Linked DNA regions of Homo sapiens: region 1 is linked to region 2. The links come from fine-mapping of genetic effects on gene expression. A gene starts in region 2. The other region holds a variant in brackets. All regions are shown on one strand. Distances are from middle to middle.

Region 1 (3,027 bases), 120 kb after region 2:
CAAAATTACCTTTATGTAAACAATCCATATTTTTAAAAAGAATAAAACTTGTATACTTGTATTTTTTCTTCACACTGATATAATCAGAAAAATATACGACTTTTTTGGTGTTTTTTTTTTTTTTTTTTTTTTTCCTGGAAACAGTCTCACTCTGTCTCTCAGGCTGGACTGCAGTGGTGCAATCTTGGCTCACTGCAAACTCTGTCTCCCAGGTTCAAGCATTTCTCGTGCTTCAGCCTCCCCAGTAGTAGCTGGAATTAAAGGCATGTGCCACCACACCCAGCTAATGTTTTTTTGTTTTTTTGTTTTTTTTTTTTAGTAGAGACGGGGTGTCACCATGCTGGCCAGGCTGGTCTTGAACTCCTGGCCTCAAGAGACCCACCCAACTCAGTCCCCAAAGTGCTGAGAGTACAGGCATGAGCCACTACACACGGCCTGATACAGTTATTTTTTAAACCCAAATTATCAGTCTAGTTTAATTGCATGAACTTGATTTCTTGTTTTTTTTTTTTTTTCTAAGTGCTTTTTTTTAAAGTGCTTTTGAGCTAGCAGCTTCTGTGAGAAGGACTTTTTTTTTTTAAGCAGGCTATCACATTTAAAGCATTAGACATTCAATTTATGTTGAGGAAATGTTGAGAATATTAGATTTATATAAGTGCTTTTCAGTTTCTCTAAAACGATTGTCATTTTAAGCCAGATAATTGTTTTGTCATGCAGGGCGGTCCTGAGCATTGTGAGCTGTGTGGCAGCACACCAAATCTCTACCCATTAGATGCCAAAAGCACCCCCAAATTGTAACAGCCCAAAATGTCTCCAGACATTGCCTAAAATCCCTGAGGAGAGAGTGGTGACATTGCTCCAAAACAATCATAACGGTACTCTTTAAAGAGTCTTCTAATTTATTTTACTTATACCCTCCCCCTCCACCCCCGCTGAGGTAGGAATATATCTCAAACTCACACAACCAGAGGTAAAGACTTTTCCCACTAGATGCTCAAAAACACAAGGCTCTTGCAGCTTCAGTTCAGCAAATTAGCAACAGATCCTAAGCAATCAAAGGACACAAACTCACCTGTCTGTTATCCTTTTCAGTGGACTGACTAGTTTGTGCACAGAGTTAAACCTGTGGAACTGTAAGTCCAATTAAAACTCTTTTTCTTCCCAGTCTCGGGTATGTCTTTATCAGCAGCGTGAAAATGGACTAATACAGTTATCAAGTCTCTTCAGTTTTCTCCAATCTCAAAAAGCTCCTTAGTCTTTGAAAGAGTACAGGCCTTACCTTTTGTAGAGTGATCCTTGAGCTGGATGTTTCCTTATGATCACACTCAGGTCATGCATTCATGGCAGGAATATCATGGAAATGAAACTATGCCCTTGTAAGAGTATCAGCCATAGTACGGACATATGCGGTTGACTGTTCCCACCACTGGTAACATTGGTCATCACCTGTCATATTGGTGTCTGCCAAGTTTCTTCACTGTAAAGTCATAATTTTCTTCTTTGTAATTGATTAGTGTTTTGTGGGAGACAGA[T/A]AATCTGCAATCACACCAATATCCTATTTCTTATTCTTCCTGCAACTAGTCTTAGCCTCCATTGACATAAAGCTACTTATAGCATTTTCTACTTTATCTAAGATAATCATGTTTTTATTCCTAATATTGCTTGTTTGTATAATCTCTTTCTGTCCCATCTCTCTTATTACATGTTTATTAGTTTTTTGAAAGACTAGTAAAAATAACCTTTATTTTTGTTGATCTTCTCCCATTTTTCATTTCATTAACTTTTGCTCTTACATTTGTTTCCATTCTTCTACTTGTTATTCTTCAAACTCTTGAGTTAAATCATAATTCATTTTTTTAAAAGCTCCTTGGTTTTTATAGGTTCATTTAAGACTGCAAATTGGCCTTCCAAATATTGCGAGAGCTGTATCTTAGAATTTTAAAGTTAGGTTTACTGAGGTATAATTTACATGCAGTAAAATCCACTCGTTTGAGATATATTGTTCTAGAGTTTTGATCAATATAAACAGCTATGTAACCTCAACCACAACCAAGATATAAAATATTTCCATCTCACCAAAGTTTTCTCGTATTTCTTTGCAGTCAATTTCCTCCTCCTGTAACTGACTCAAGTTCAACTGCTCACTGTTAGAAGTCAAAGTATGAGAAATGAGGTGTGACCAAAGGGAAACAGCTTTTATTCAAACGCTAGCAGATGGGGAATGTCCAGACTCGTGCTCTTAACAGACTATTTCAAACTTTAGGCCGTGGACAGGGGTTTAAAGAGGGGAACTTGGAATGGAAGGCATGCAGGAATGGTGCTGGGTACGAGGTCTGTGTGTCTTGTTCCACTGGTTATCCTGAGTCATGGTCCACTTGGAGTGCAGGCTGGCATCATCTCAACAATGGTGAGGCTGTTGACTAACTGCTCTGAGGTAATCTCTAGAATTTCACACCTGGGTTTCCATGCCTGGTTTATCTCAAGATTAGCCCCTGCAACTTCTGGGCACATAATTAGATAAACTACCAGTGCACAAGAGTGTCTGGTGGGAAGGCAGGGAAACAAAGAGTATTAAGGTATGTTTCAAGGCTAAAAGGAAGAAAAGGAAGAAAAAAAAGTCTCAAAATGCATTTTGAACCTAAGCTACTCAGTTACATCCTCCCAGCCCCGATCCCTGGCAACCACTGAACTGAATTCTTTTCTTATTGTTTTGTCTTTTTCAGAATGTTATATAAGGAAATCATGTAGTATGAACCCTTTCGTTTTCTTCTTATTTAGCTCAATGCTTTGGAGATCCGTCTGTGCTGTTGTGTTTCATGCATTCTTTTTTTTTACTAAGTATTATATGATATACATGTACAAAGAGTCGTTTGTCCATTCTATAGTTGGTAGACATTTTGGTTGTTTCCAGTTTTTGGTAATTATGAATAAAACTGCTATAAACATTCAGGAGTAAATACTTAAAAATATAATTGCTGGGCCATATGATAGGTTTAAGTTTACTAATGTTATAAGAAACTACTAAAC
Region 2 (2,737 bases):
AAATTATGAATTAACGCCCGCGCGGTGGGTCACGCCTGTAATCCCAGCACTCTGGGAGGCCGAAGTGGGCGGATCACGAGGTCAGGAGTCCAAGACCAGCCTGGCCGACACGTTGAGACCCCCCCCCCCGCCCCGCCGTCTCTACTAAAAATACAAAATTTAGCTGGGCGTGGTGGCGGGCGCCTGTAATCCCAGATACTCGGGAGGCTGAGGCAGGAGAATCGTTTGAAACTGGAAGGCAGAGGTTGCAGTGAGCCGAGATCGCGCCACTGCACTCCAGCCTGGGCAACAAGAGCGAAACCCTCTCTCAAAAAAAAAAAAAATATGAATTAAAATAATACCCTCACCATCTCCATCTTCTGCTATATGACCTGAACTCAGAAAATAAAAGTAAACCATTCACACTGGATGTGTGTGATAAATATCCCCTGAGACGTGTGGGACCCAATATGATTCTAATCTTAAAAGATACGATGCAGTAATAGCGATATTTCAAGCACTATCCTGTAGATTGGAGGAGACAAATCTAAAATTCATAGTACTATATAGTTAGCTATTCTAACTACAAGAATGCCCAACTGTGTTTTTCAATAAAAGTAGAGCAGAACAGTGCAAACTTCACCACTCAATAAAATACCTTACTTGGCGCTCCCAATAGTGCTAAACATAAACAACGCGTACAAGGCACTGCATGGGACAGCTGCTAATGAGGACAAATCGATTAGGGAGACCAAAGCTAAAGGAGGCCACTGGAACTGGAGAAGGATATGGAGAGGTATTTGATCATCATCAGGCTGGCGTGCTAGCGGAAGTCTCCGGGCATTATTTAATATTTAATCTTTCTATTCCTGACATCACGGGGGCTCAAATGTCATCAAAAGACAGGCTGGCATTAAACCCGGCAGGGTGACGCACATAACATCTTACCATATGGATTTTCATCAGTCCAGACCGACAAGCACCTCAAAGCCTGCCCAGTGAAGGAAGAAGGGTGGCCCAGGCCGTCAGCTCTCCCACCCTTGGCGCGCAGTTCGGTATAGCACTCGGGGTTTGGAGGCTGCAAGACCACCGGACCGGACGCCCCAGGGTCGGCTCGGGCCTCCGGAGCTGTGCACTCGCGCACGGCCCGAGGAGGTCGCCCGTGCGGCCGCTGACACCAGGCGTCAAGTCCCCGCCCGAGCAGCCCCAGCCTAGGAGGCGGACCCCGCCACTGCTCCTCTACTGAGCCGAGCGTGTCGGCCAGGGACTCAGACAGTCGGCACAAACCCCCTCCCGGGGTCTAAGCCCGCCTAGTACAGTACCTGAAGGGGCAGCGCCACCTCCGCCCGATTGTGCTGGCTGCCCCAGTGGCGGCGGTCACAGCTCGGGCGCCAATGACGCCTCTTATAAAAACAACCTGCTCGCAGGCGTCTGCAGCCGGCAGGCGGTGACCGGCTGGGCGCCGCAGTGCATGCCGTGACGCGTAGTCCCGCCTGCGCCTCCTGCCCGGCAGCGGTGAAGAGAAGAACTACCACTCCCGAAGTGGAGCGCAGGCCGCCGCCGGGCGGCTGCGGGAAGCTGGGCCAGGCGGCCGCAGATCCCCACAACATCCGGGAGCCGGCGACCACTTCCAGTTGCTATGGTTACGAGTTGCAACCTCCAGAAAGAATTCGTGGTTTCACCCGGGAAAACAGCTCCCCGGATTAAACGGATAGGTTTACACATACTGATCCACCCAGCTATTCATCTTCTGTTTGCTGCTTTAATTGGGTGCGGTTAAAAGGCCACGTCCCTAGGCGTTCACCGGCTTTCTTGCCATCTGCTGCATGAAAACTGACTTTGCCGAAAAAATTAACAAAGAAGAGCGAAAATGACAGACCGCAACCGGGTGAGTTTAGGCAGAGGGCTAGATGTTTGGGAATGTTGGTATTCGCTAGTATAATTTGAGGCACCACCTACTCCTACCACCCCCAACCCCACAACCCCGAAAAGCACTTTACAAGGCAACTACTGAGCTTTTACATTTACACTTGTAAATGCACGTTTCCTTAAGTCCGAATAGCCTCTGAAGGTGTAAAGACCATCGAGATTGTATGCATTCATACCCTACTGTTGCAAACTGTTCAGTGATGGTTTTGAACAAGAAAAACGTACTTTGTTAATTGTATACTTATTTAAATTGCACTGTGTCAAAGAAGGGAGTTGTTTTGAAAAAGGATTTGGTGGCCGGGCGCCGGGGCTCAACGCCTGTAATCCCAGCAATTTGGGAGGCCGAAGCGGGTGGATCACCTGAGGTCAGGAGTTCGAGACCAGCCTGACCTACATGGTGAAACTCCGTCTCTACTAAATACAAAAAATTAGCCAGGAGAGGTGGCGCGGGCCTGTAATCCCAGCTACTTGGGAGGCTGAGACAGCAGAATTGCTTGAACCTGGGAGGCAGAGGTTGCAGTGAGCCGAGATTGCGCCACTGAACTGCAGCCTGGGCAACAAGAGCAAAACTCCGTCTCAAAAAAAAAAAATCTTACATTTATATTCACTCTTTACAGAAGCAATAAAAAGTTTAGGTTTCATTCTCTGTCCCCTAATTGTGGTAAAAGTAAATAAATAAATGGAAAAATTAATAATAAACGTAAACATTAGCAAGGAAGACGGTGGACCTGAGCAGAGACAAAAGAGTGCCTCAAAATTAGACCTTTTTTATTTTTTATTTTTGCTTTTCTATTAACTATATTCAACATCAACAGTGACATCAAAAAAT

Direction of the effects. Alleles are on the strand shown, and positions count from the first base shown. SD is a standard deviation of normalised expression in the study named.
As copies of T replace A in region 1, the expression in fibroblasts of the gene that starts at base 1,440 in region 2 goes up (moderate effect, 0.48 SD a copy in GTEx).

Evidence for each region. PIP is the estimated chance that this variant, and not a neighbour inherited with it, causes the effect. A credible set is the group of variants that fine-mapping cannot tell apart.
Region 1: its variant is the best candidate, but not a certain one, in a credible set for the expression of CCPG1 in fibroblasts (GTEx, PIP 0.61).

What each region holds. Positions count from the first base shown.
Region 1 is chr15:55,528,759-55,531,785 of GRCh38, forward strand. It overlaps LOC124903496, which reads right to left and starts at 2,170. Exons shown (of 2, transcript XM_047433411.1): 1 at 2,077-2,170. The variant T/A (reference allele first, on the strand shown) is at 1,533.
Region 2 is chr15:55,406,920-55,409,656 of GRCh38, forward strand. CCPG1 (cell cycle progression 1) reads right to left here and starts at 1,440. Exons shown (of 9, transcript NM_001204450.2): 1 at 1,302-1,440. PIERCE2 (piercer of microtubule wall 2) reads left to right here and starts at 1,576. Exons shown (of 2, transcript NM_001198784.2): 1 at 1,576-1,867. The coding sequence starts at 1,850. All of the region lies in intron 8 of DNAAF4-CCPG1 (DNAAF4-CCPG1 readthrough (NMD candidate)), which reads right to left. RefSeq lists enhancers at 660-939, 1,300-1,569, 1,620-1,819.